2 separate regions of the Homo sapiens genome follow, and region 2 is linked to region 1. The links come from fine-mapping of genetic effects on gene expression. A gene starts in region 1. The other region holds a variant in brackets. All regions are shown on one strand. Distances are from middle to middle.

Region 1 (15,345 bases):
GTAGTTTTCAATTGTGTAGAGAAATCATAATTTGTTCATTCACCCGTTGAAAGACATTTGAATTATTTCTAGCTTGGGGCTGTTACAAATAAAGCTGCTATGAAGGTTCATGTAGAAGTGTTTGAATGGACATATGCTTTTATTTCTTTTGGATAAATACCTAGAAGTGGAATGGGTGGTTAATATGATAAGTATACAGTTAACATTTTAAGAAACTGTAGTCCAAAGTGGCTGCACCATGGTACACTCCCACTGACAATGTGTGAGAGTTCTGCATATGCCCTGTATTTGCCAGCACTCAGCATGGTCAGCCTTTTTAATCACAGACATTCCACTAGGTGTGCAGTACTAACTGCTTGGGGTTTCATTTGCATTTCCCCAGTGGCTCATAATGCTGAGCATCTTATTTGCCATCAATATGTCTTCTGTAATGAAATGACTGTTCAAATCTTCCACTCACTTTTTAATCCAGTTCTGTATTTTCTTATTGAGTTCTTGGATTTCTTTATATATTTTTGGTTCGTACTTTATCAGCTATGTGATCGGCAAATATTTTCTCCTAGTGTGTAGCATGTCTTAGCAGTGTCTTTAAAACAGCAGAAGTCCTCAATTTGATCCAATTTATTGATGTATCAGTGCCCTAGAAGGAATACTTTTAAATTGGGATTTGTTTTATGGCTCTAAGATGTTCTATATCGGTAAATGTCCCATGTGCACTTGGAAAGAATGTGTATTCTGCTATTGTTGGGTGGAGTGTTCTATAAACATCAATCAGATTGAGTTGGTTTGTAGAATTGCTCAAGTCTTCTATAGCCTCACTGATTTTCAGTATACTTGTATTAATTGTTGAAAGAGGGGTGTTTTATTTTTAAGTTCTGGGGTACACGTGCAGGATGTGAAGGTTTGTTACATAGGTAAACGTGTGCCATGGTGGTTTACTGCACCTATCAAACCATCACCTAGGTTTTAAGCCCCACATGAATTACTTATTTTTCTTCATGCTCTCCCTTCCTCGGTCCCACCGCCGACAGGCCCCAGTGTGTGTTGTTCCCCTCCCTGTGTCCATGTGTTCTCATTGTTCAGTTCCCACTCATAAGTGAGAATATGCAGCATCTGGTTTTCTGTTCCTGTGTTGGTTTGCTGAGGATAACGGCTTCCAGCTCCATCCATGTCCTTACAAAGGACATGATCTTGTTCTTTTTATGGTGAAAAAGGGATATTTAAATATCCAACTATAATTATTAATTTACCTATTTCACCTTACAGTTCTATCAGTTTTTGCTTCAAATATTTGAAAGCTCTGTTATTGGGAACACACGCGGTTAGGACTATTATGTCCTCTTGACCAACTAACACCTTTATCATTATGAAATGGCTGTCCTTTCTCCTAGCAATGTTCTTGGCTATGTAATAGACTTTGTCAGCTATCAATATAGTCACTCTAGATTTATTTTGCTTAGAGTTAACTAGAACATCTTTTTCCATCCTTTTACCTTTACCTTATTTGTATTTTCATATTTAAAAGTTCTTTTTTGGTAGGCAGCATATATCTGGGTCTTCCTTTTGACAATCTTTGCCTTTTAATTATGGTATTTAGACAATATTTAATGAACATTAACCGATATAATTGGGTTTAAACCTGCCATCTTGCTATTTGTTCTCTATTTGTTTTATCTAATTGTTTCCTTCCTCTCTTTTTATGCCTTCTTTTGGATTAATAGAGTTTTTTTTAACAATTTCATTTCATCTCTATAGGCTTTTAAACTATAGCTCTTTGTGTTATTTAGGAGGTTGCTTTAGGGTTAGAGGACACATCCTTAACTCATTACAGTCTTTCTTAAAGTGACATTATACCATTTCACATATAGCATTAGAACCTTACAACAGTATCCTGCCATTTCTCCTCTACCTGCCTTTGTGTTATATTTGTGATATATTTTATTTCTATGTGTTATAAACCTCACAACACACTAACATTTTTGCTTTAAACACTTCTGGCTCTCAGCAGGCATACCTCCGGCAAGCTTCTTTCTGTTCTCTTGCTAGATATTTGTCTAAAATAAGAACAAATAGGATCTGAGATCATAAGGTTTCACAATCTTTACTGTATGGTCTGTGCTCTGAAGCTTTTTCCCCATTGCTTCCTGATTGTTGGTTGTGAATTTGATGGATAAATGACCCTCAAATATAAGTGAATTGTTATTCTATAAAGAAAGCAGATAAAAATCCAAACAGTGATTGAAAAAGTGAATTTGAAATAATTCAGTAATGAAAAAGAGACCCAAACAGTACACTGTTATCAATTAAGTTAGGTAGACAGCTGGGGGAAATCCTTCATGGAAAAGGAGGTGGGTACTCTGCATTTGTTTATTGTAGAACTAGAGGGCTGGCCAAAAATTGCCCCTTTTTCCCTTTTAGGAACTGGTCTAAAATGTTCTCTCACTTAATGAGGCATTTCTCCTTTCCCAAAGCCAGATGTGGTCGAGGTATTGTATATTTTCTTTAGCCAGCAGTTTTAGATGTAGAAAAACCTCTCCAATTTTTTAAAAAAATTTATTCTTGAAATATGAACAGTAGTATGAATTCTAGAATATTGTAATGCATTTTATTGTATTCAAATACACAGGATAAAACAGATACTGTGACGACAGGAAGAAGGGAGCAGGCTACATAGGAGAAATACATAGGCTATATAGGAGAAATTATGAACCCGGTTAATACGCACAGAGGATTTTAATTTAAACCTTGCTTGTACACCAACGGAGCGTTTAGCTCCCTCTCCCCAGCAACTTATGTCTGCAGTACTCCATACTAGGGCACCCTTTCTATTTCTATTCTAATTCTATTAATTAGAATTCTATTTCTAATTCTATTTCTGCTTCCTAATCAAGGGCACAATACAATTGTCCACTTCTCGAATCCCTCCTCCTCCTGGTATCTGGTTCTCTTGGCCCTCCACGTTCTCTGTTAAAATGAGTTCTCAAAGGCCTCAGCCTAGAGTTAAGAGAAGAAGCTCGCTGAGGCGGGGCCTCTGGGTGCCCACTTCAGCCTCCCCAGTCATTTAGGACAATTTCCTAAGTCGAAGCTAGAGATGCGTGATGCGTTTGGTGACTTTTCCTGGGTTCTTGCTTAAGCGGAGCCACAGGTTGTGGGGGCGGCCAGGCCTCTGGGGAAGAGCAGGTGCCGCGGTGCCGGCGCGCCAGCAGCCCGCGGCCAAGGCCACCTGCTCCCAGGGCCCCGGCACCTCTGCGGGGAGGCGGCAGGCAGAGGACGCGCGCGCAGTCGCGCAGGAGCCCTCAGGCGAGTGGGGGAAGCATCGCAAGAGACGCGGACCTGGAGCGCGGTCACTGCGTTACCGCAGCGACCTGGGTTACCTAAGCCGGCGGGACTGAGAGGCCGCTGCGCGTGGGCAGGGGCTCAGATTGCGCCCGCGGTGCCTGTCCCGGCCCCCACCCCGGAACGATTGCAGCCCTGCGGGGCTCGCCGCCCACACCGCGCTGAGGACGCTGCCCAAGCCAGGCGCCCGCCCCCGCCCGCGGTCTCAGCCGCTCGCAGCGCGCCGCCCCCAGACGCGCGTGGCTGCTGGCGAGGGCTGAGACCGCGCTCCCGCCGGCCAGTTCCCAGCAGCAGCGCATCCTCCCTGCTCCGCGCCTTCGCTCCGGACCCGCGTCGTCGCAGCCCCGCGGTGATGAGCCCCGAGCCGGTCCCGCCGCCGCCGCCGCCCCAGTGTCCTGGCTGCGACCGCGCGGAGCCGATCGCCCAGCGCTTAGAGGAGGGCGACGAGGCCTTCCGCGCGGGCGACTACGAGATGGCAGCCGAGCTCTTTCGCTCCATGCTAGCCGGGCTGGCGCAGCCGGACCGCGGCCTGTGCCTGAGGCTGGGGGACGCGCTGGCCCGCGCCGGCCGCCTCCCCGAAGCCCTGGGCGCGTTCCGCGGCGCCGCGCGGCTCGGGGCGCTGCGGCCGGAGGAGCTGGAAGAGCTGGCGGGCGGCCTGGTGCGCGCCGTGGGCCTGCGCGACCGGCCGCTGTCCGCGGAGAACCCGGGCGGCGAGCCCGAGGCGCCCGGCGAGGGAGGGCCGGCCCCGGAGCCCCGCGCGCCCCGCGACCTGCTCGGCTGCCCGCGCTGCCGGCGGCTGCTGCATAAGCCGGTGACGCTGCCCTGCGGGCTCACAGTCTGCAAGCGCTGCGTGGAGCCAGGGCCCGCGCGGCCGCAGGTGCGGCGCGTGAACGTGGTGCTGAGCGGCCTGCTGGAGAAGTGCTTCCCGGCCGAGTGCCGGCTGCGCAGGCTGGCAGGCCAGGCGCGGAGCCTGCAGCGCCAGCAGCAGCCGGAGGCCGCGCTGCTCAGGTGCGACCAGGCCCTGGAGCTGGGTGAGTCGGCTGCGGGGCGGGTCCGCCTCCCCTACACCTGTCCGGCCCAGCAGCGGGGTGGGGAGCTGGCCGGTGGGCCCGAGGCTTTGGGCTTTCGAGAGCTTTGTCTAGGCTTAGGGGTCACTTTGCTTCCTAAGGATGGGAAGGTGAAAGGTGGGGGCGGCCACACCCTGCAGCCAGGAGAGGCCAAGTGCACCCCACTGGTTTTGTCTTTTCCAGGATGCTGGTAAGTTTCCCGCGGCCCCCGGAGCAGCTCTGTAAGGTCCTGTAATTGCTTTTCGGCATCTTCTGCGCTGTTGAGGAGCGGGGAGGATGACGAAATATTTTTGCTCATCCTGAAGGAAAATGCACATAGCTGACACACTACAGGCGCAGAAAGGGGTGCCTTGTGCTGGGGCAAGATTTGCTTTGGGTTTCAGCTAATATAGCCAGGAAGGAACCGCCTCCACTCTGCTGTAATCACGTCAAACGCTCCGGCTCTAGCCTGCTCTCTGTCTCAGAGGCCATCATTAGATGTCATGGCGTATTTAACTTACTAGATAGTTACACTGACTAGTGTGTGTAGTTTTAAATTGTTCATTCAGTCATTTCCTTATTTATCTGAGGCCTAAGGCCAGCAACAGGCACTCTCCTGCCTTCACCCAGCCACCACCTGTTAACACTATTTAGCTGAAAGGAAGACCAAACTTCTGTCATCGTTTTGGCTTTGACATATGAGTATGCGCTCTATTGGCAGTTGTTTTGGGCAGTGTGAGGAGGACGGTTTGCTTTCTGGTTTCACCGGTTTTATAATAGGGCATATACGATTTAAAGCACTAGCCGAGAAGACTTGTTGAATCTCTTGTTACTAAAATAATCTACTACCATGCTGTAGTCAGTGCACATTTTATTTTAAACTTAGGATTAAGGTTTTCCCTTTTAGAAGGCACAAATTATAAAGTGACTAGCATTCAATTTTGTCTTGCAAAAAAAAAGATCCAAATATTGAACAAGTGTTCAATATCTGTATCTAAATTGGGATATTCTCTGCTGGAATAGAGCACTTAACTCAGCTTTTCTAACGAGTATTCTGTAGTTTTTGCAACCAACATATCCATACTTTAACAGGCATATTTTTTAGTTTTCTACTAATTTAGGTATTGATGGTGTTAGAGCAGCACTATCCAATTAGAACTATTGTGTAAGCCACACATAATTTGGGATTTTCTTGTAGCTACATTAAAAGGGTGAAAAAAGCAGGTGAAATTTATTTTAGCAATTTTTAACCCTATACATCCAAAATATTATTTCAACATGCCTTCAATTTTAAAAAATAATTGAGATTTTACTTTTTTAAACTAAGCCTTTGAAATTCGTTATATATTTTGCATTTACTGCACTACCCAATTCCAACATCAAATTTTCATCAGAAATACTTCATCTGTATTTAGATGTTGGAGAAGATGTAGAAAAATGAAAACTGTGATATTTATATGCTGCTAATGGGACTGCAAATTATGCCCCTGAAAAATATTTGGTAGTATCTACAGATGTTAAGCCTGTCCTTGGCCAAATAGTTTCAAAGAGGTATATGCATATGTGCCCCCAAAAGAATGTGCAATTAGATACAAGAGTGTATGTCATTGTTAGAGATACCCCAAAAGTGCACACAACCCAAATGTCCAGTAAGAGCAGAAGGGGTGAATATATGATTATGTTTTCATAGCATACTATACAGAAAGAAAATAAATCAACTACAGTTACAAACTACAATGTGGACAAATCTCACAAACATAATGTTAAGTGGAAGAAGCCAGACTCAAGCATTTTTACTATATGATCCTATTTATCTGTAAGCCCAAACAGACAAAATTACTGTAGGATGTTAGAAGTAAGGACAATGGTTACCTTGGGGGGATGAAAAGGGAATAGTGATTGTGAGGAAGTATGAGAGGGATCTGTGGGGTAGTGGTGATGTTCTGTTTCATGATTTAGGGGATGGATACACAAGTGTGTTCACTTTGCAATAGTTCATTGCACTATATACTTATATTTTTAGCTTTTCTGTATATATATTAGACCTAATTTAAACGTTTTTAAAATAGGCTATTTCAGTAAATTCATATGAGAACTTATATAGAATGTATTCATTTTTCTATTCAAAGATTAGCTTAAAATTTTATGAAAACATTTAATTTCAAAATAAATTAGCCCTTTTAAAGAGGTTTTGATATAGTTAAAAAAAAAGTTCACAGATGTTTGGAATCAGAAATACCTGTGTTTAGATCCAAGCTCTGACTTTTTTTTTTTTTTTTAAGACGGAGTCTTGCTCTGTCACCAGGCTGAAGTGTAGTGGCGTGGCTCTACAACCTCCGACTCCCTGGTTCAAGCAATTCTCCTGCCTCAGCCTCCCAAGTAGCTGGGATTACAGGCACGCACTACCATGCCCAGCTAATTTTTGTATTTTTAGTAGAGACAGGGTTTCACCATGTTGGCCAGGATGGTCTCAATCTCCTGACCTTGTGATCCGCCCGCCTCAGCCTCCCAAAGTGCTGGGATATCAGGTGTAAGCCACCATGCCTGGCCTTTTCTTTTTTTTTTTTTGAGACAAGGTCTCGCTCTGTCACCCAGGCTGGACTGCAGTGACATGATATCGGTCACTGCAACCTCTGCCTCCTGGGTTCAAGGGTGATTCTCGTGCCTCAGCCTCTCAGGTAACTGGGATTACAGGCATGCACCACCATGCCTCGTATTTTTTTTGTGTGTGTGTTTAGTAGAGACGTGTTTCACTATGTTGTCCGGGCTGATCTCCAACTCCTGTAGTCAAGTGATCTGCCCGCCTCAGCCTCCCAAAGTGCTGGGATTATAGACATGAGCCACCACACCTGATGTCTGATGCTTATTTATTATGTGACCTTAGCGAAGTGTGGTAGTCATTAGTGCTGGTCTATCTCTATACCTTCCCCAGGCAAGGTAGGATTGCACTTCCCGCTCCACTTGTGATTAGGTGGAGCCATGTGACTACTTTTGGCCGATAAGTTATGAGTGGAATTTAAAATAACTAGTACGTATGTTGAAAGAGGTAAATAAATGTATGAAAATATAAAGCATTCAGAAGACAATTGTCCATAAAAAAGAACCAAGTGGGTATCCTGGAAATTCAAAATACAATGTCTGAAGTTGAGAATTAGATTTGTTACAAACCAGATGGCACACATCAGAAATCTGAATGAGAAAACTCAGAAGCAAGTTAACAGAAAATATCCAAACTGAATCACAGAAGAAGACTAAAAGAGAGCATGGGAGTTATGTGAGACACAGACAAAAGTTCCAACATCGATGAAATTGGAATCCTGGAAGAAGAGAGAGGGGAAGGGCAAGAGAAATATTTAAAGAAAAAAGTAATTGAGAATTTTCCAAATCTGATGAGAAACTTTAAATCACTGAATCAAAAAGTTCACTAAGCCCAACAGGGTGGACACAAGTGCACACACAAACATACACACAAAACCCATCCAAGTACATTATAGTCAAGTTCCTGAAAATCAAAGATAAAGAGAATTTAAATGCATTTAGAGAAGACAGGACATATTTCCTTCGAAGGAATCATAGAAGACTGACAGTTGACTTTTAGACAAAATTATTGAAGCTAGAAGCTAATGGAATAATGTCTTTAAAGTGCTGAAAGAAAAAAAAAACCTAGCTGGAATTCTTTACCTGAAAATATTTTTCACAAAATCAAGGTGCTTTAAACCAAAGAAATAACTCAAGCTAAAGGATTTTATTACCATCAGAATTGCATTTCATGATATACTGAGGGAAAGTCTTCAGGCTAAAGGAAACGTATCCATATGGAAGCGTGAAACTAATGCACAGAGTAAAGAGTGCTAGAAGGTGTAACAATATGAGACAATATTGACTATTTCAAATAACAATAATAATGTCTTGTGGTATTTGTAACATACATAAAAGTGAAAGATATGGCAACAGGACAAAGCCAGAATGGGTAAATACAGTTAAATTGTTGTATGGTTTGTACACTGTTTTGGAGGTAGTAACAGTACCAATTTAAAGTAGACTGCTAAATCAGGTTTGCATATTCTGTTGTCTTGGGTAACCACCAATAGGAAGGTAAAATTAAAAAAAAGCTATAGTGGAATAGTAAAGTAATACTGGATTAATCCAAAAGAAAATGGGAGGGAAGAATAGAGAAGGAGAGAATAAGTGGGACAACTAGAAAAGAAATAGAAAAATGGGGATTTAATTTACATTAAATGTGAAGACCTAAATTTCCCATTTAAAAACTAAATGTTGGCAGATTGGATTAAGTGAAGTATAGCTACATGCTGTTTACACACGAGGTAAACTTTAGGTGTAAGAACACAAAAAAAGGTTAAAATTAGTAGGATGGCAACAAAGACTGACAAACAAAAGCCTGATATGGCAAAGTGACTATCAGATAAAGTATTCTTTAAGGCAAGGAATATCAGAAGAAATAAAGACATTTATGATGAATGGGCCAGTTCAACAGAAAAAAAATGTGTAATAATATGCCTAAATTTTTATGCACCTAACAACAAGTGTACACACACACATATGGAGAGAACAAAAGGAGACAAAAGCAAAAGGGGAAATAATTGGAGATGTTGAACAAAACTTTTAGTAACTGATAAAGTAAGGATTGCAAAATAAGTAAGGATATAGATACAACATACTTCAGCACTTAGATTTAATTAATATGTGTCACTACATACAACTACTGCAAAAACATAGCCATTTAGGCTCCCATGACCATAGGCAGAGCGTTGGAGTTGGCCTGTGGTTGTGTTTGCCAACTCCTGGATTAGGCCATGAAAGAAGTCGTAATAAATATTAAAAGATTGAAACCAGACTGTATATGTTCTTTAAACACTGTGGACTTAAACTAAAATTAAATAGCACATAAATAGAATATCTTCAGATATTTTGAAATTAAGCAATATATTTTTATATAATGATGGGTAAAATGAATCACAACATAAAGTAGAAAATTTTCTAATTATCTAATAATTATTAGAATTATTAGAATTTCTAATAATTATTAGAAAATTTTCTTTCTTTTTTTTTTTTTTTTTTTTGAGATGGAGTCTCGCTCTGTTGCCCAGGCTGGAGTGCAGTGGCACGATCTCAGCACGCTGCAAGCTCTGCCTCCCAGGTTCACATCATTCTCCTGCCTCAGCCTCCCCAGTAGCTGGGACTACAGGCACCTGCCACAACGCCTGGCTAATTTTTTGTATTTTTAGTAGAGACAGGGTTTCACTGTGTTAGCCAGGATGCTCTCGATCTCTGACCTCGTGATCTGCCCGCCTCTGCCTCCCAAAGTGCTGGGATTACAGGTGTGAGCCACCGCACCCGGCCAGAAAATTTTCTATTTTGCCTGAATGATAATGAAAATACAGATATCAAACACTGTGGGATGCAATGCAACAGTGCTTAGAGGGAAACTTACTGTTTTAAATGCCCATACTACCAAAGAACAGCTGATAGTCAGTGATCTTTAGGCTTCCATTTCAAGATGCTAGGAAAAGAAAAGCAAATAGAATCCAAAGAGAGTACAAAGAAGGAAATAAAGGAGCCAAAATCAGTAACAAGACAGGAAAAATACAGCCCAATGTTTCTTACGAATATAGTTGCAAAAATCCTAAATAAAATATTAGCAAACTGAATCCATTGATACCCTTAAAGAATATCACATCAGTAGCAAGCAGGTTAAGTTTTGTTTAATCCTGGAAAATCAAGCAATGTAATTCACCATCTTTACAGAAAAAAGAAAAATGATATGATGCATCTCTCAGGAAACTACGAATAAAAAGGAACTTTCTTAATTTTTTAAAAGTCTACAAAAATGAGATAGCAGCTATCATAATTAATGATGAAATAATGTTTTCCCATTGAATGAGAAGGTAACACTGTTTTATTCTCACTGCCACTCAGCATTTCACTGGAGATTCTAGATAGCTATGTATTAAGATTGGAAAAATAAAAGATAAAACAAAAAACTGTCATTATTTGTAGATGACCTGGCATACATAGAAACTCCAGAAGAATGTAGGAACTATTAGAAATTATAAATGATTTATCCAGATTGCTGACTACAAGGTCAATATAGAGGTTATCAAACATAACTATATACTTAGAAAAAACAAATAGGAAAAAAACTTTAAACAATTTATGTAAACAAATTCCTTGGAATAAATCCTGAAATAGCTGAAAGATGTTTAATACCTCTACACTGAAAATTTCATTTCAATACACTGAAAACATGAAACATTTCTGAGAGAAATTAAAGCAGACTTAAATGGATGGATATATCATTTTTTTTCATGGATTGCAAAACTCAGTATTGGCAAGACGTCAGTTCTCTGCTGATTGAATGGTAAATTCAGTGCAATCTCAGAGAAAATCCTAGCCAGTGTTTTTGGTGGAAATTGATGAATGGCCAAGGCAACAGTGAAGAAAAACAACAAAGCTGGAGGATTTACACTGGCAGATTCCAATACTTACTATAATGCTGCAGTAATTAGGACAGCATTGTATTGGCTTAAAAATAGACACATTGAAACTGACTCTCACATATACAGTCTCTTGATTTTCTGAAAGATGCTAATGGAATTCAATGGGGAAAAATTCAATGGGGAAAAAAGAGTCAGTTGCTTTTTTATATGGAAAAAAATAAACCTGAATACCTATCTCACATCATATAACAAAATTACAATTAAGTATCTAGGAGTCATAGGAGACTGTTTTCAAGGACTTGGGGTAGGCAGTTGTTTCTTAAATAAGACACAAAAAGCATAACAATAAAACTTCTGTTCCTCAGAGGCCCCCAAAAAAGTGAGAAGGGGATGAGTATACAAATATCTTACTGAGACCTCTAATGCAGAATAAATAATGCCTATGATTCAAAAAGAAAAAGCCAATCTGTCTAAACACAGTAAGTACTCACTTAACACCATTGATAGAAACAACTTTAGCTGAAACTACGTAATAGGCAAAGAGTTAAAAACTAGATCTCAAAGTGAGCAATTAACATCTAAAAGACTGCACAACATAATTAGTGCTCAAATGCAAATTAAAATGAAAGTAAGTTAGTACATCCCCACCAGAGTAGCTGAAATGAAAAGAACTGGCAATACTTAGTTTTTATTTGCAGCAATTGGAACTCTTAAATTACTGATGGAAGCATAAGTTTGTACAACAACTTAAGAAATGTGTTTGTTAGCACCTGCTAGAGCTAAACTCGTACAACCTCTGATGTGGCATTTCTACTTTTGAGTATATACTAGATAAAAATGAATGCTTATGTCCATCAAAATATGTGTACAGGAATGTTCATTGCAGCTTTATTTATATATGCCAGAAACATTTGGGGAACAGTTCAATTGTTCATCACTAGTAGAATGAGTAAATAAATCAAGTCATACAGTGTAATATTACACAGCAATTTTTAAATTTTTTAAAATATTAATTTAAAAATATTACTGAGACATATAACAATAAGAATGAATCTCACAGAATGATAATTTAGTGAGAAGTCAGATACAAAAAAGTACATTCCATTTATAAATATCCATTTATAGAAGTTAGAAAACAGGATAAAGTAATCCAAAGTGACAGAGGTGAGAATGGTGGTTACCTTTAGGAGGGGCACACTGAGTGGGATAGTGCACAAGGGAACCTTCTTAGGCCCTGGGAATGAACTACATGATGATGGCACGGGTACACATGCAAAGGTTGAGATATACACCTAAGATTTGTGGACTTGACTCTGTAATTACAGTCTTCCATCAATTTGAATAAATAGGCTTTGAGGAGTATTGCCACTTATTCTTTCTTTTCATAGAGAACACTACCCAGTTTTTATTGCTTTATGTGTCCATTTGTTTGTTTATTTATTTATTTGAAACTGGGTCTCACTCTGTCACCCAGACTAGAGTGCAGTGGGACAGTCTTGGCTCACTGCAACCTCCACCTCCCAGGTTCAAGCAATTCTCATGCCTCAGCCTCCCAAGTAGCTGGAATTACAGGCATGTTCCACCACACCTGACTAATTTTTTTACTTTTAGTAGAGATGGGGTCTCGCCATATTGGCCAGGCTGGTCTCAAACTTCTGACCTCAAGTGATCCGCCCACCTCGGCCTCCCAAAGTGTTGGGATTACAGGCGTGAGCCACCACGCCTGGCTCATTTAACTTGTGTAAAATAACATGTAATCCTCCATTTCTCACCACTGCACACATTTGATAGATTTTATAGCAGTAACCCTAGCTCCTAGTACAACAGTGGCTCTGGGTTGCTGTTGGAAAACAGCCTTTGGTCGACCCTAAACACAGTTGTGGTAGACATCTCTTCTTTTCCTCTCAAAGCCTGGGTCTTAGGCTGCCCTCTTATGACTTTTCCCCATAGAGGGGTTAATTGGTGAACCTACTGAAATGTTGCATCAATTCTTTGGAAAGTACATATGTACATTTTTCTTCCATATGTTTTCTCTACACAAAGACTTTTAATAATTTGCACTTCCTCTTCCACTTAGTTTTGAGGGATCCTTGGAGAACTCCTTTAGTTTTGTTGAGCCTAAGGTTTAATCCTTAGAAAATGTGTAAGCATTTATTTTATGTGTTTTAAAAGACTAAATTGTGAAGTGCTGTCCTCACAAATGTATCACCAAATGGTGGACGTCAACAAAGAAAACAGTGATTCATTCAGTGTCGAGATGAGAAGTGATTGTTTCTTGGCCTTTTGGCTAAGATCAAGTGTAGATGGGAAGTGAATTTTATGAAATTTGGAGTTCAGTTAAAGCACCCTTTAGAATGTGAGGAGTAGAGACTTAAATGTATTCATTAGAAAAGAATGATTAAAAATAAATGTAAATGAAATGTATTTTTAACACTAGAAACTTTATCAGGATTAATTAAGCTAACACAAAGATAGTATAAGCAAAGGAATAATGAACAAGATATTAGTAAAACAGAAAAAAATTGAGTTAGTTAACAGGTGAGAAACTGATTCATTGCCAAGGCCATTAAGGGACAAATATTTGATAAATGTGTTCAAGAAAAAGCAAGGCATAAATACCATAAGGAATAAAGAAGCATCATTGCGGATATAAAAGGATATTTATAAAAGATTTTAAAACTTATATAAAAAGGACAATTTTAAGGAAAATACAAATTATCAATATTTATCCATGAAGAAGTAAAAGCCTTCAAAAAAATTGAGATGCTCCTCAGGGATTCTCTTCTGCTGAAAAGGCGCTAAGGTCAAGAAAGTCCTTACAGCTTTCAGTGACTAATTTCCATCTTATTTCAGATCATAGAAAAATGTGGGAAGATTTTCATCTCATTTAATAAGGTTAGTATAATCTTGACACCACAATCAGGTAAAGCTTGCACAAGAAAAAAAAATGTGTAGGCTAGTCTTACATATGTATATAGATGTCAAAATCCTAATTAAATTTCTTAGTATTTTGAGTCCAGCAGTGTAATAGGAGTTAAGACCAAGAAGAGCTTATACTAGGACCATAAGGATAATTCGGTACTAGACAAATCTTTCAGAGTAATTCACCATATCAGGTTGAAGGAGATAACTATATGTAATCTCTCAGATGCTGAAAGCAGTCTATAAAATTCAACACCTACTTGTTATAAAGTCCTTACAGAAAACTAGGAATGGGAGAGAAATCACCTAACTTGATAAATATTTTCTCTCAGAAACTTACAACAAACATATTTTATGTTAAAACATTAGACACATGCTTTTTAAATTCAAGAATAAGAGAAAATGCTGTCACTATTATTGCAATATGAGAGCATGAGGAAATAGGAGTATAAATACTAGAATGAAAAGGAGTGAATTGCACATGACATTCTTGTTTAAAATATTCAAGAGAATCCATTGGCAGATTGGACTAATAAGAAACTGTAGCCAAGTGGAAACAGGATATGAGATCTCCATTCTCACACAGGTTTGCAGCAGGCATAACCCAAGCCTAAAAAACTATACTTCCAGGAGCACATTTTTTTTTTCCAAAATTTTTTTTTCCAAATCTCCTTTGGAAGATGTGGAAAAAAATCAGCATTATAGTAAGTATTACATTTTTTTCCCCAAATCTCCTTTGGATTTTTGGAAATCTCCAAAGGAGAATTGTATATTTCAAAATGCATTTAACTGTGTGATTGAGGCATTTTCACCAATCTTTTAGTTGGAAATAATCTAATAACATGCTAAAAAGGCAGATACCGTGAGGAGAATCTAATAGAATTCTATAATGTCTTCCCAGCAATTAAAATGCTCAATTTAAAATCATATGAATTGATGCCAGCACTTTCACAGTTACTATGTGCATTTTCAAAGATGAAATACATAAAATCTCATGTTAGATCATAATTAACAGATGAATATTTTCAGTTGTTTTGATGATAGGAAACACTAACTTGGAAACTTAAGAAAAATGTTATTCCCCAAACAAGAATTCCATTCTTCTCATTAGTTTATCTGTATTACAAAAAAGTACTTAAATTATTGTTACCATATTTTAAATTGCGTCAATAAGAAATCTGTCAAAATTTGTTTTCCTTCTTGTTAAGCAAGTATCTATATGATATCCTTCAGTTTGCCTCTTTGCCTGCAAAGCCTAAAATAGTTACTATCTGGCCTGTTACAGAAAAAAAGTTTCTGCCACCTGCTCTAGCCAGTTATCCATACCCAGCAATGTCTCTCTTAATAATTAAAATTGTATTGTTTAACTCTTGCTGTTTCTTTCCCCTTCTACTTTTTTCTTGTTATACTTTCTCTATATTACACATATGTGGTGATGACACATTTATAAGTAGTTACTTTTCACCATGTCTTGATGTAATATCTTTGTGTGTAAGTTCTTCGGTGTATGCTTGCTCAGTTACCTACATAAACTAAAAGGAGGCTAGTGGCATTTGGAAAGCACCAAGTGGGTAGTTTGAAAA
Region 2 (16,061 bases), 25 kb after region 1:
AATGCCCAGGCTCTGCTGGAAGAAGGTGATGCAGGGAGCTCGGAGGTATGACGTGCATGCATTTGTCAGGATTCTCTTGATTAAGCTTTACATAATGGCTTCATTTTAAACAGTTTACAGATTATTCACACATTATGGCATTATGTTAGTTAGACATATTTCTCAAGACCAGTTGTAGCTCCTCAACCTGGGAGTTGGAACTTTTACATGAAGTCTATGGAAGTAATGAAAATGATTAAAGATTGAAAGAAGCTTTAGAACACCACCAAATCACCCCAAACGGCAGGAGACTTGAAGTTATTTTGGCTTGGAGAAAATAAAGCAAAGGGACAAGTTAAAGGGGGCAGCACACCAACATGGCACATGTATACATATGTAACAAACCTGCACGTTGTACACATGTACCCTAGAACTTAAAGTGTAATTTAAAAAAAAATAAAGCAAAGGGATGATTTGAATATGATATATGATTTTATGTGTGTACGTGTGTATGTGTATGTGTGTGTGTGTGTAGATAGATAGACAGACAGACAGATTGCATATGAAGATAACTTTTCACTTGCCCTGGCTCAGGAAGAAATTATCCTGTATTTTACTGTGAAAAGAATAAAGCTCATCTTAGAAATTAACAGATGAAACCAATTATGAAGAAGAGTGTATGCCCCCCCCTTTTTTTTTCCAAAGATTTCTAGTACAGGCTTCTGCATTCTTTTTCTCTTATGCTATGATTTCTTTAATACTCAGGATTCCTTTTTTTCCCACTTAACCAGAATTCATCTGAGAAATCTGATATGCTTGGAAATACCAATTCTTCAGTTTTGTATTTTATACTGGGTCTACACTTTGAAGAGGATAAAAAGGCGTTAGAAAGCATCCTTCCAACAGCACCCAGCGCTGGCTTAAAGAGACAGTTTCCGGATGACGTGGAGGATGCACCTGACCTGAACGCCCCTGGAAAAATTCCCAAGAAAGGTCAGTGAACTGTTTTCATCAGGCAGTTCTGTGACTCCAAAGTGATAGAATGTTAACTAGTATTCAATATATTTTTTAAATTTTTACAACATTTAATATTAGTAATGAAATGATTATATCAGCTCTAAGATTATAGAGCATTTTAGATGTTTTATACTGCAAAGACTTCATAGTCAAAAATAGCAGAGAAAATTTAGCTATAATTTAAAATTTTATTCATGCTTACCATCCAGATAAATTATTGCTGTATGCTGTTAACTGGGCAGGAACTATTTCTGCCCAGTGTGATTTGTTACATTGATACAACACGTTTGGTCCAGAGAAAATACATTTCTTGCATGCTGTTGTTCAGGTGCTTAGGTGTTAATTACAGCGTTTTAAATTTTTTCGCATTCAGATCTCTCACTTCAAAGGAGCCCAAACTCTGAGACAGAAGAAAGTCAGGGGCTCTCGCTTGATGTAACTGACTTTGAGTGTGCCCTCTGCATGAGGTAGGATGGTACAGAATCCGTGCAACTCTTTTAAAACTGCAGCCTTTCTGAAATGTATACCAAAGTGTAATGGGCTTTTTATTATCACGGAAACTAGGGAGAGCTCAGTAATAATTGATTTATTTTCTAAAGATTTAATAAGATATAAAATGAAAGTGCATGCAAGTGATTTCTAGAACAGAAAGGGGATTGCATAAGGAATCCTTCAAAAACCAGTCCATGATTTGAAAGTCTGTCCTGGACATTTCTGGCTGAAAACAGATATTTTCTTCCAGATTGCTCTTTGAACCTGTCACTACGCCCTGTGGACACACATTTTGCCTAAAATGCCTTGAGCGCTGCCTTGACCACGCCCCACACTGTCCTTTGTGCAAAGACAAACTTTCGGAAGTAAGTACACTTTAGGAAATGACGGGACAGCTCCTCCTCTCATCCCTTGGTGGACGCTTACTCCCTGTCTCGTGTTGCTTCCCCCACCCAGTTGTTAAAGAAACTGAGATTTCTCCAATCAAAGATAGGTCTTTTCTCATCTCTTTGATGAATCAAGAAATACACAAGGAAGGTTGACATACAGAAATTGCTAAATGTTAAGGACATTTTTAGGTAGAAATTTTAGTTGAGATAGATTGAAAATAGCTAACATTATGAACCCTACATTACGTTCATTGTAAATGGTTGAGACGTTGTCATGGTGCACTTAATGTGCTCCAGGAATTCTCTTTTTCATCTTGAGAGTTTTTCGTAGGATTGAAGACTTGATCATTTCTGACCACAGGTGAGTCCCTTTAGGGCTTTTACAGTTGTCAGTTATTATTGTCTTTGGTCTGAAATCAAAACCAGTAAAATTCAGGTCCCATGGGGAAGCTATTTAATGATATTTAGCCCCAATATAAACTATTAAATCCAGGTTCCATGGGGAAGCTATTTAATGATATTTAGCCCCAATATAAACTATTAAATCCATTTACGTTAGGTATGGTAAATACAATGAAGAGTATTTAAAAGCTGAAGACCTTCTGATCAATTCCTGAAATAGTGAATCCATATCAGCTGTATTGGGCTGTGGTCCTATTAGTGCCATGAACTTTCTATGGAGCAAGTCATATAACATCTTAAGGGGGTGGGGAGTATCTTCCTTTGTTTTGCATTCATTAAATGAGACTGATAATATTTGCCTTAATTACTTTCCAGAGATTAAACTTATTGAATGCATTTTAAGTAGGATAAAGTTTTTTTTTCTTTTTACAAACGTACAGTAAAATTTATTTTTTAAATCTGATGTGATAAGATGAGATATTATACTTAAGTGAAGTTTTAAATAATTATAACCTTTAAAATTTACTGCCAAAACATTAAAATAACTAGTTACAATTGAAAACATTTTCTAAAACATTGTATGCACATACTTGCTTTATTAAATTGCATGCATACTGAATCTTTTTAAATTCTTCAGAGTTCTCGTGAACATCAATTATTGTGCTGTGCGCTGTGTGTCACAGTGGTGACTGTGCTCTGAGTCTGCAGAGCTGTTTCCTTGGTGGCCCCTGTGCAGTTTTCCTCTGGGCATTTGCTGTCTCTTCTTGCTAGTAGATGCATCGGACCCACTGCCTCTTGTTTTGGTGCCTGCCTGGGCCAGAACAGGCTCATCTGTTCTTACAAGAATAAAATGCATGTATGTGTGAGCCCTGTTTACAACACAGACCTTACTCACTTCTGTTTCGATGCTGCCTTGTAGGGGGCTGAGTGAAGAAGTGATAGCTGGAGGTCGTCACTAGAATAGAAGCTGCTTGGCCGGGTGCAGTGGCTCACGCCTGTAATCCCAGCACTTTGGGAGGCTGAGGCGGGTGGGTCACAAGGGCGGGAGATAGAGACCATCCCGGCTAACACGGTGAAACCCCGTCTCTACTAAAAAAAAAATACAAAAACAAAATTAGCCAGGTATGGTGGCGGGCACCTGTAGTCCCAGCTGCTCGGGAGGCTGAGACAGGAGAATGGCGTGAACCCGGGAGGCGGAGCTTGCAGTGAGCCAAGATTGCGCCACTGCACTCCAGCCCGGGCGACAGAGCGAGACTCTGTCTCAAAAAGAAAAAAAAAAAAGAATAGAAGCTGCTTAAGTACTGAGACTTCCTATGACCTGTTTTCCCTGTATTTCCAGGGACTAGCACATGCACCAGAGACTCTAGAAGTCTTTGTTGAATGAATGAATGAATGATTACATGCAAACTATACATGGGTTCCTAATGTTCCAGAAATTAGAATGCTATAAAGTGAAATAAAATCCAAAATTATAGTTTTGTCTTTCTTCAATGCGGGAGTCACATCATGCACATAAATGACTTTGCATGCACTACCAGGGACCTGAATCATCAATTATATATGAATCTCCAGAACCCTTGGCTAGCATCATGCCAAGTAGAGCATGTTTTATTGTATTACTCTTCAATAAAAGGACATCATAAACCATTTATTAAATACCTATGTCATTAATAATGACAATTATGAAGCAGTTTTGTGAGTGAGATGATAGCCTGTTTCTCTACCAGTTACCCTGTGATGGTGGTTCTCAAACATAGGCGTTTCCAAAGTTTGAACTCCTGGTTCTCAGTCAATCACAGCAATACATTTAGTTTGTTTCACACCAACCACAAGGAAACCTGGCAGTATGCGAAGGACTCACCCAGCCATGGTGTGTTGGAAATACGTGGAGCCATCCCAAGCCCAGAAATGCAGCAGGCCACCAAGGAAAGAGCAGAGCCCTGAAGCCCGCCAGGCCTGGGGTCCTCGCTATGCCATGGTGGCTCAGCACTGACCCCTTACCCTTTCTGAATCACAGCTTTATGAGCGCAGTGGAGAGAACAACTATAGTATTATACTGTTTTCAGGACTAATAAAGCACCTGCAGTGGTCCCTGATGTGCATCAGAATGTCAGTGAAAAGAGCTACTATATGCTAGTATACATGCCTGCAATAAAACAGTGCAACCTACCAAACTACTAATCTGTGTGCACACATACACACGCGCACACACACACACGCAGAGTAGTAGTTCAGCCACATTGTGGCCCTTCCACCCACCGATCCCAGCACTTTCTTGTTCAGTCTCCTACCTTCCCTTCACATCCCGCTTTAATCCATGGTCCCTCTCTCTCTTTCTCAATCCAAAAAAAGTCAACCTTTGCCTTTTGCATGCATCCTAAGTAATACAACAAAGCTAGAAAAAAACATAATGTTGGGAAGATTGGTGTCAGTTTAAATGAAAAATTTTAAGTCTTAGACTCAAAACATAAGTAATCATTCTTACATTCTTTCTCTAGTAGTTCCAGTTCTTCACTTTCCAAGCTGATCATTGCAAAAGTCTCTCCTCTCCCAACATGCCCTACTTCACTTCCTCCCCTCTCACCAACATCATGGCACTTGGTTGAAAATGTAGATGCTGTCAAGATTGAGTTGCCTCATCCTTCATCCAGGTGAACGCCTCCTCCTGGCCTTTTCTCACAGTGGAGGGGCTGCCCCTGCTCTTGTTACAGGCTGGCCCGCCTCTCTCTCCATCCCTTTTCCTTCTTACCTGCTCAGAGATCCCACCCACCACCTCCTTGTTCACCTTTCCACTCGGAAGCTTCGTCCTTTAGAATCAATTACCATACAGTATCATTTGACTTTTTTTTGTTACAGTTATTGGCAAGCAGAAACTTTAACATAACTGTTCTGGCCGAAGAATTAATATTTCGATATTTGCCGGATGAATTGTCTGATAGGAAGAGAATTTATGATGAAGAAATGTCAGAACTGTCAAAGTAAGTGCTCATGTTGTGTGTCCTTGGTCTTAAGTTCAGATTGAACTTTGTCAACTTCAGCTTCACCTCAGATTTTCTTTTCATGGCAGAGAACTCTCTTGGTCTGTAAATGGAAAAGGATGTTAATTGCAAAATATTTTTGGAAACATAATTGCAAGCAGTTATAAGAATTTGTTTTCTTTTTTTATAAGATATTTTTAAAGTGTTTTAACAAAATTGTATAGTTGCTTTTTGTATGTAAATAAGTGATACTGAATTTTTCAGGATTTAAAAAGCAAAGAAGGCTAGGCACAGTGGCTCATGCCTGTAATCCTAGCATTTTGGGAGGCCAGTGCAGGAGGATTGCCTGAGCTTAGGAGTTCAAAACCAACCTGGCCAACATAGCAAGACCCCACCTCTATATTAAAAAATTATTATAAATAATTAAAAATAATTTATATATTAAAAATAAATAAAAGGCAAATAATATAAATGTATTTGTTACTGATGAACTGTACACTTAAGAATAGCAAATTGTATACGTATATTTTACCTCAAAAAATTTTTAATGTAATGTCTGCAAAGTGGAGTAAAGTGAAGCACAGTTTTAAAAAGTAGAGAGAATGAGAACTAATACCCAGGATTGCGAATCACAGCAGGCTTGACAGTTTTCATCTTTTAAAATGGTAAAAGTTTTGTATTTTAGTAGCGATCTTATCACTCTTCCACTCTTCTAAAACTCATTGCCTTTGACTACTATGTAGTTTTTGCTTTTATCAGAATTTTTTTAGAGTGCTTAAAAGGTATAACTTTTCCAAGCAAAGTAATATAATTCAGCATGTTCTCTTTCCTCAAGTTAAATAAGACAGATTTGTCAGGAAACCTGGGTGAGCAGAGAATTTTCACATGCTATGGTCCTTGGCTTTCTTGTCCCTCTTAGCCTGAGGGTTTTGTTTTGTAGAGGGGAGAACTGAGGTTGGCTGGCTTTTGCTGTTTTGGTGGCCAGTACCACCCTCTGATCTAACAGCTCATACATCTGAGATAACATGTCCCCTTGCTCTGCAGTCTGACCAGAGACGTCCCCATCTTTGTGTGTGCCATGGCCTTCCCCACGGTCCCATGTCCACTCCACGTTTTTGAGCCCCGCTATCGGCTTATGATAAGAAGATGCATGGAAACTGGCACCAAGCGGTTTGGCATGTGTTTATCTGCTGAGCACGCGGGGTAAGAACTGTTAGCATTTGGTTCAAAGGGTCCTAATGAAGGGCATCGTTTGTCATTTTTCTTGCAGAATGATTTAGGCTGATGCTTGAAAACCTCCAGTGGCTCCCGTTACGTAACAAAGTCCAAGTTCAAGGCTGCCCACAATGCAGTCCCATCCCTTCTTTCTAGCCTCACTGCCCACCTCTTCCTTTCAAGTATCACACCCACTAGTCCATTGCCATGCTACTTGCCCTTCTCTTGTGACAGCTCATGCTTCCACACCTCTGTGCTTCCCTCTGCCTGCAATTTTCTTTATCCCCATTTATATACAAACAAATCTAGTCCAACTTCTGAGGTCTAGGAAAATTGCGGCTGGGCTTGGTGGCTCACGCTTGTAATCCCAGCACTTTGGAAGGCTTAGGTGGGAGAATCGCTTGAGCCCAGGAGTTGGAGACCAACCTAGGCAGCATAGGGAGACCCCATCTCTACAAAAACATTTTAAAAAGAAAAATGTCTATATCCTGCGCAAAGCTTTTTCTCTGTCTCTACAGCCAAATCATTTTCAGTCTTACAAAAACACACTAAGCTTGGTTTTCACCTCCCCTCGTTTCACGTCTTTGTCCAGAGAGGGTGTTGCAAGCCAGCAGGTCATTCCCCTCTGTGGACTGATTTGGGGACTCAGGACCCTCCCATCCCTTAGGGCCTTGTCAGCCCTACATAGTCATGATGAGGTCACTGCATTCAAGTGCTAGCTATGGAGGAGGTGCACATGCTCTTAAAGGACTCTGGAGAAAGGGGGCTGCCTCCTGTTCACACCTGCTGCAAAGGAGCCTGGCAAATATAGTCCACCTACGTGCCCAGGAAGAAGAGGAGACTGCATTTTTAGGGCCACTCAGAATTTTCCACCATAAATATCTAGGGACAGATCTTTTTAAAATATGTGTAGGACCTTTATGGAGAAAATTCTGAAATTTTATTGAAAGATAAGAAGTTCTGAATCAAAGGAGAGAAATGCCATGTCCGTTGGTGCACAGACTCAATGCTGTAGAGATGCCATCTCTATCCAGTTCCACAAATCCAGAGTAATTCCTGTCAGCATCTCCAGGAAGCTTCTTCATGGACTTGCTCAAGCTGATTTTAGAATCCGTGTAGAAAAGCAAAAGACTAAGCCCAGATCTGGCTGAACAAACAGGAGAACATTCCTGTAATATCAAGTTTACAAGCCTTAGTAAGTAGACCAGTGACACAATAATGTAGAGATCCGAAACAGGTCCACTCATATGTGGACGCCAAATTTATAGACAATTGTATGAGAAAAGACAAACTACTCAGTAAAGGGTGCCCAGAAAATTAGTGGGTGGTCCAAATGAGAGGGGGGGAAAAAGCTTTACCTTATGCCATAAATAAAAAAATAACACATTTGCATTCCTAATGTGAAATGTGAAAAACAAAATATAAAAACATTTAAGAGGAAATATTGGGGACTGCCTTTATAATTAGGAGTGGGGAAAGATTTTTTATACAAGGTGCTGAGAATACATAACAGAGGGAGAGATTAGTAAATTAGAATATATGAAAATTTGATTAAAGTCAGCAAAGAGAAAAAATAAGCTATAAGAGTTCCACGTGCACTGAGAATATAGAACACTGAAAAGAATGTTATTCCCATCCAAACAACAAGAAAAACAAGAAAAAACAGATAAACCACAGAACATGTATTTCTTGAAGCCATCAGAGAGTGAAGGTTGCTCAGGGTAACCAAACAAGATCCCACAGGGAGAGAGTAGGCAGAGCCCAGGAAGAGACATAAAAGTGTGTAGGAAGAATTCAGCTATTTTTCTTTTTTTAAACAAATTGCTAATGACCTTGTGTGGGCTGGCATCAGAGTGCAGGTCTGGAGAGCTGCACTCACGAAGGGAGTTTGCATCACACACAGGCTCCTGTCCACAGATAAGAGGCTCCTTGATGAGTCATGCCCTGCAGCAAGGCAGGCTTGGAGGAGCTGACATTTGTCTGGAGGCCTCTGCTGGTTGCTGGGGCATTCAGTCCTCCCTTGAAGAGGAATCTTCAGGGCGCCTCCAGTTTCACCATGCTATGAATGAGATCATCCTGTTAGATACCAGGAAGAGAGAGTTTTATTAAGTATATAAGTAGAGGCATCCAGGTGGCAGTTTGAATCATCGCTGCTCTTTAGTTTGGGGGACGTGTAGTAAAGCTGCTCACCATGAGAACTTTAGAATCACACTGCCATGAGTTCTCATTTTGGCTCTAAATCTCCCTGTGGCCTTAGAGAAGTTAATTCCTCTGAGCCTCCGTGTTTTGTGGGCTTGAATTCGTATATATTATAAACTGCTGTGTGTGGTGCTTGGCACGTGGTAGCGTGAGAACATCACTAGGTTACGGGTGATAGTTACAGTCAGAGTGTGGGTAAGAGCTGGGGAGAGCTTTGGAATGAGAATAGACATAGCCTAGAATACCACCCTGGGCAGCATGGAGCAGGAGGGACATGCAGAGGTAGGGGCTGTGAAGGGCCGGGCTGGTTAGAGAGGGTTCAGGAGAGCAGAAGCATTAGCTCAGCAACAGTCTGCAGGGCCGTGCCTTAGGGAGGTCAGACAGGAGCCTGTCAAGTGATTTGAGCAATTCAGAGGGCATCTCTGACTTCTTTTGGAGTCATTTTAATGGAACGGTAGGATATGGAGGAGTGAGGGGGAGGCAAGGAGATGAAGGCAGTGGCCGGGGACTGCTTTCCACGGCACTTTGGTTGGGGAGGGCAGAGCTGGCAGAATTGGAATGAGGTGAAGACCTTGTGGGCGAAGGCAGGAGGGAGGAGGAGCGGAGTGCCTTTGAAGGTGGAGGACTTGCTGCCCCAGCAACCAGCACCAGCAGAGGCCTCCAGATAAACGTCAGCTCCTCCAAGCCTGCCTCACTGCAGGGCATGACTCATCAAGGAGGCTCTTATCTGTGGACAGGATCCTGTGTGTGATGCAAACTCCCTTTGTGAGTGCAGCTCTCCAGACCTGCACTCTGGTGCCAGCCCACACAAGGTCATTGGCAATTTGTTTAAAAAAAAAATAGCTGAATGCTTCCTACACACTTTTGTGTCTCTTCCTGGGTTCTGCCTACTCTCTCCCTGTGGGATCTTTGTTTGGTTACCCTGAGCAATCTCCACCCTCTGGTGGGTTCAAGAGACATATGTTTTGTGGTTTATCTGGTTTTCCTTGTCGTTTTTCACATTCTTTTTAGTGTTCTATATTCTCAGTGCACATGGAACTCATAGCTTGTTTTTTCACTTTGTTGACTTTTGATGAATCAAATTTTAAGTGTGGGCTTGAATTCATATGTATTATAAACTGCTCCGTGTGTTGCTTGGCACGTGGTAGCATGAGAATATCACTAGGATAAGGGTGATAGTTACAATCGGAGTGTGGGTAAGAGCTGGGGAGAGCTTTGGAAAGCCGAGTGTGTGCGTGGCACCAGCTGGGCAGTCCTGATGGTGCCCCGCCAAGGTGGCTGAGGAGCCACATTTGAGATTTCATCTCTTCCCATCTCTCGGGTCCTTCCCAAAACACTAGCCCGTTGGAACCGCTAAGGCACAAGTCCTGTCTCACCTGGAGCCCTTCCCCTGCAGCCACCATCACCACTATATTTAACATCTAACAGAAGCGACCATGTGCACGTGTCTCTTAGCGACAATAACCTTGCTGGTCTGATGTGGAGACACTGTTTTGTGTGGCTTTGTATTCCTTTTAAAAGTAAACTCTCATCCAGGGAAAAAGAAGGCCCCCTGCATTTTAAAAATCACAGTCATTTCTCCTAACTGTCTTTTCAGGCTTTCAGAGTATGGATGCATGCTGGAGATTAAGGACGTGAGAACGTTTCCTGATGGAAGTTCTGTTGTAGACGCGATTGGCATCAGTCGGTTCCGAGTGCTAAGCCACCGCCACAGAGATGGCTATAACACAGCGGACATTGAATATCTTGAAGATGAAAAGGTAAGGCTTATCATACTGGTGTATTTTATAGCAGTCGGTCCTCTCGCTTCCCTTTGCATTGTGGAAAAGCTTTGTCAAACTTGTACTGACAATATTACTTAAGTCCTTAATTCATCACTTAAGTTATTTATTTATCTATTTGTTTATTTTTGAGTCAAGGTCTTGTTCTGTCGTGCAGGCTAGAGTGCAGCAGCATGATCTTGGCCCACTGCAGCCTTGACCTCCCAGGCTCAAACGATCCTCCTGCTTTAGCCTCCCGAGTAGCTGGGACTGTAGGTGCACACCACCACACATGGCTAATTTAAATTTTGTTTGTCGTTGAAACAGAGTCTCCCTGTGTTTCCCAGGCTGGTCTCAAACTCCTGGGCTCAAGCAGTCCTCCCACCTCAACCAAAGTGTAGTAGCCCCAAAGTGCTGTGACTACAGGCATGAGCCCCTGCCTTCAGCAGTTATTTATTTTCTCAGTGGATTTTTACCTGAGTTGGGAGCTGGTACAGAAATCTCCTTTTAAAAAAATGATCTGGCCAGGCATGGTGGCTCACGCCTGTAATCCCAGCACTTTGGGAGGCCAAGGTGGGCAGGTCACGAGGTCAGGAGATTGAGACCATCCTGGCTAATACGGTGAAACCCTGGCTCTATTAAAAATATAAAAAAATTAACCATGTGTGGTGGCGGGCACCTGTAGTCCCAGCTACTTGGGAGGCTGAGGCAGGAGAATTGCTTGAACCTGGGAGCTGAAGGTTGCAGTGAGCTGAGATCGTGCCACTGCACTCCAGCCTGGGCGACAGAGCAAGACTCCATCTCAAAAAAAAAAAAAAAAAAAAA[AAG/G]ACCTTATTGTACTTATGCAACATGTAAACCTGCGCATTGCAAAATAGGCTTTTGATTTGTATTTGATGCTGTAGCCCTGGAGCTGGCAAACTTTTTCTGTAAAGGGCCGGCTAATAAGTACTTTAGACTCCAGAGGCCATGTGGTCTCTGTCGAAGCTACCCAGTTCTGCCCTTGTAGTGCAAAAGCAGCCATAGACAATGTGTAAAGGCATGAGCATGACTGGTTTCCGTTAAATGTGACTTCCGGAAACATGGTGGTGAGCACGGTTTGACTCATGAACAGCAGTCTGTCAGTCCCTGTTCTCTAGGTTGGTATTAATTCAGAATGTGACAAAATCTACAACTTAAAAAATACCTCCCAAAGCTAAATATAAAAGACTTGAATTTATTAACCCTTAAGAATTTTTTCATGTGTCTAATAGAAATATCAGGACATATAATTTGACAAATTAGCAAAATGTTTTGAGAGATTCTCCAACAGACTTACACAAGGATGTCCATAACAGTCTTACTCCATTATAGCCCCAAACCAGGAACAGCCCAGGTGCTGATCACACTTGAGTCAGTAAACACATTGTGGTCCATTCATGCAATGGAATACTACCTGTCAATAAAAAGAAATGAACCACTCGTGCATGAAACAATATGGATGACTCTCACAGACATTATGCTAAGTGAGAGAAGCCAGACACAGGACGAACACATACCGCGTGGCTTCATCTGTATACTTCCAGGAACAGGCAAAACTAGAGTCTGGGGACAGAAGTCAGAAAAGGCTTGTGGGGTTGGCTTTGTAATTGACTGGAGGGAGTGGTGAAGAATCTTTCTAAGTAGTGGAAATGTCTATCTGGTTTTGGGTGATGGTCAGACTGGTGTATACAGTTGAGAAAACTCTTTGAGCTCAACAAGATCTATGCACTTTTTGGTCTGTAAATTATACTGCAGCAAGAAATTTTAAAATACTTAAAAGGAGGAAATCCTTGGAATTATTGTATCCCTCTTTTAAATTCTTTGGTTGACATTTGGAATTGTGGAAGTGAGGGTACGTAGCCACCCCACATCACACTGGAAGTCATTTTGGGGGCAGTGGTGTACACTTAGGATTTGTGAATGGAGTCACACCCAGGACACTGTCTCTGTGCCTCCTCCAGCTGCTGTTTCTGGTCATCCCAGTGCATGGGAGCAGAGCAGGGAGCCCAGCTCCCAGGCTGGACCAGAAAGCTGGGTTTCAAAGCTACAGCTGAAAGTGATAATTCTCAGGGTCTCTCTGTGGGATGGATAGACCTGACGGCAGGGTTTATTGACCGTTGTTGTAGATGACAGCTTTTAATAGTGTATGCGCTTATTTTAAATGGGGGCTTAAATAGCTACAACATGAAATAATTTTAGCTTATTTTTATAAGAAAATCCTCTATCACATATGAATATTTGATTTGTATAAATCAAATTGAGGGTGGTATATGCATTATATTATAATTTCTCAGCACACCGTAGTTTTTGTAGGTACTGGAATTTTGTAACAGGAAAGGACCTTCATGGTTTATTCCTATTATGCAGATGAGAAAACTCTGCCCTAACGAGGCTGTGAGACTGGCTAGATTCACACATGAGAGTTGGTGATGAAGCCAGACCAAACCCTGGCCCCGTGATTCCCAGTCCCATGCTCTTCCTCCTCTACCAGGTGTTCCTGAACAGGACTGAGGCGTAATTTAAATGACAGATGTGATAGTGACATAGGGACCAGAGGCCAAGCTTGGTCAGTCTAAGGTGCTGTGGCCGACCACAAGCTGGAGTCCATCAGCCCAGGCCAATGTAATGAGTGTAGTCTTGCCCTGTCGTGCCTTTAGGAATATAGTTTGGTGATATGGAATACAATTTTTAAAATGTCACCCTTTGACTTGGTAATTCTGTCAAGGTCTCTAGGAAACTACACTGAGGAAACCATACCTCCCTCCCTTGTCAAAAAAGCAAAACAAAACAAAACAACTTTTCCATAAATGTTTATATTATTGTGTTATTTTTAAAAATAAAAAAGCTAGAATATTCTAAATAACTTACGTGAATAGTTAAGTAAATTGGCATGTATCTCAAATATATAATTGCATGCAGCCATTGAACATTATTCAAAATTACAGGAAATGTGCTTATATTATGGTATTAAGAGAAAAATCAGGATACAATTGATAGATTTCAACTATGCAAAAAATGCAGATTTCTATATTGAGCATGTACCATTTTTGTGAAACTGATGAATTATTAAAATGCTAACTGCCACAAATCCACTTAGTGGAGGTGCAGAGGTCGCTGACTGTGTTACGTGCATTACTGTGAATGGTTCACACAGCTGTGCCTCTTTCCCTGATCAGGTGGAGGGTCCAGAGTATGAAGAACTTGCCGCTCTCCACGATTCTGTGCATCAACAGTCTGTTTCCTGGTTCGCGTCTCTCCAGGATCGCATGAAAGAACAAATTTTAAGTCATTTTGGGGTAATGCCAGACAGAGAACCTGAGCCTCAGGTATGCCCTCCCTTTTTCCTTTATAATTCTGTTACTTCCTGCTGTAGTGTGCTGAGCCATCATTCTGGTGGAGAGCTTGGCAGTATGATGCTGGTTACCCCAATGTGGTTGCTTATGAACCAGTTCATCTACTAACAGCCCAAAGGAGCACCTACTGTGGTAGCACATGACTTGTGAAGCAAAACAACAAAGGCTCTCTAACAGAACATAATTTCTTTTCTAACAACAATCAGTTTATTCTGCTTGGCTGTCAGCTTTTGTAGCCTTTTGCTTCTTTCACTCACATCTTAAAATTTAAGTAGTAACTTTATTGTATTGGCATGAACATTCCACGTTTGGCGCATAGCATTGCCTTGCACCTGGTATAGAGATGTTGAATAAGTGAAGAGAAAAATCCCATCATTCTTGTGACATTAGTAGCGTGACTTCCTTGTCCTCTAAGTACCCTGCTGCCCAGCTGTCATGGGCTTTCTCTGGTGCTCCCTACAAGTACTTTTGGTGAAGCTGGTTCTTTAAGCAATGAATGAGCTTAGGTTTGTGGAGCATTTCTAAGCTCAGGTGGGCCTCTCCTCTGCATTAGATGGGAGAGCCAGGCTGGGCTGGTTTAAGATTGTGCCTGAGAGTGTATACCTCCCACCTGTACATGGATGCTCAGCTGTCAAAGACAGTAGGGGAGGGGGATTGGCTCTCAGCTGGTTTAGGGTGATGTGAAAGGTCTTTTCCCATCCATTTTAACTTTTTTTTTCTGTCTCTTGGAGCTTCTATCTTTTACCCCCTGCCTGAATTCTTTTTTTTTCCAAACACAGAAAAATGCTTTAACTGCCAGAAATTGCCATTAAGTCCTTCCTGGCTTGCCCTTTTTGCATAAGCCTTTGTTCTGCAGTATCCTGGAACTCAGATTCAGAAAGCATGGTGGTTACACTGACTTGCATTAGGATATGAGTCATTCTTTTTCCTAGGAGTTGTTGTTTATTAACCAAATTAATCAATCTCTACTTGGCGGGTATATTAGCTTCCTACTACTGCTGTTAAGAAATTTCACGAACGTGGTGGCTTAAAACAACACATATGTATTATCTTTCACTCCTGGTTCTGCAGGCCAGACTATGATCAGGGTGATGGCAGCATGCGTTTCTCTTTGGAGGTTGTGGGGGAGAGTCTGTTTCCTTGTCTCTGCAGCTTGTAGAGGCTGGCGGCATTCCTCGGCTTCCTTCCTCCATCAGAGCCAGCAATGTTGCTTCTCTCCGACCGTTCTTCCAAAGCCACATGTCCCTCTGACCACAGCCCAGACAGGACCCTATATGAACACATTGGGCCCATCAGGATAATCCCCCCATCCCAAAGTCCTTAACTGAATCACATCCTCCAATTCCCTCTGCCATATAAGGTACCATATGGGGGACCATTTTTCTCATGACTACAGAGGGATTTTAGGTAATACATCAATTTTTATATGAGGTCCTTCCCATTAAGCGTGCTACTCAGTTTTTTTCTTTCTCTGTGAGATGAGGCAGGGAAAAGAGTGTGAATCTGTATAAAAGGTTGTTTTCTCCATCTGTGCCTTTCTACCTCTGAAGGGCAGGTTGATGTCTTCCTCACAGTGACTTGGGCTACCCCTGGTGAGCTTTGGCCACAGTGCTATTCCTAGTCCTCCAGCATAATCTACCTCACCCTAAACTAAGGTGACTCCAGAGTTCACCCTCCCAGCTCTTATCGGCATCCTGCACATTTTTGGAGAAGGAATAGAGTGAAGAATCCTAGACCCTGGAAACAAAAAGGCCTGGATATCTTGGTTCCAGTACTAAGAATATTGAGAACGAGTTTATGATCGGCTTTTGCCTAGCACTTAGTCTAGAAGTGCTTTGTTTGATTATGTGAAATAAAGGTTATTTGGTGGCATAATAATTCTTATATATATAATTTATGATAACTCTTGCATATGACATGCATACATATATATGTTTCATACATACACTCATTTGCCACATTGAGTATGTCACTCAAACTTGTACACATACTTTTAGCCTTTATAATATTATGCTTTATATGGCATGCTTAAGACATAAAAAATAATAGCACAGAACATTGGAAAGTGAAGGTTAAAGTGATAGTATTCTCCTCTGACTGGTATATACTCTTAACTGAAAGCTTGAGAGAACAGAAGCAACTAATTCATAGAATCTCCCCATGGAAGATGCTTCTCTTTGCAGGCTCTTCCTTTTGTGAGTTCCCCCACCTTTAAATGTGTACCATAAAAGTAAACTATGTATTTTGAGAGCTGAATGA

The links.
Region 2: its variant is fine-mapped to the expression of LONRF2 in follicular helper T cells (Schmiedel 2018, PIP 0.95).

What each region holds. Positions count from the first base shown.
Region 1 is chr2:100,310,437-100,325,781 of GRCh38, reverse strand. It overlaps LONRF2 (LON peptidase N-terminal domain and ring finger 2), which reads left to right and starts at 3,281. Exons shown (of 12, transcript NM_198461.4): 1 at 3,281-4,367. The coding sequence starts at 3,689.
Region 2 is chr2:100,284,628-100,300,688 of GRCh38, reverse strand. It overlaps LONRF2 (LON peptidase N-terminal domain and ring finger 2), which reads left to right. Exons shown (of 12, transcript NM_198461.4): 4 at 1-45; 5 at 771-972; 6 at 1,370-1,463; 7 at 1,739-1,853; 8 at 5,136-5,257; 9 at 6,302-6,460; 10 at 10,269-10,431; 11 at 13,626-13,775. Among named protein-coding and RNA genes, the nearest start is that of LONRF2, 30 kb to the left of the region's middle. RefSeq lists an enhancer at 9,118-9,758. The variant AAG/G (reference allele first, on the strand shown) is at 11,257.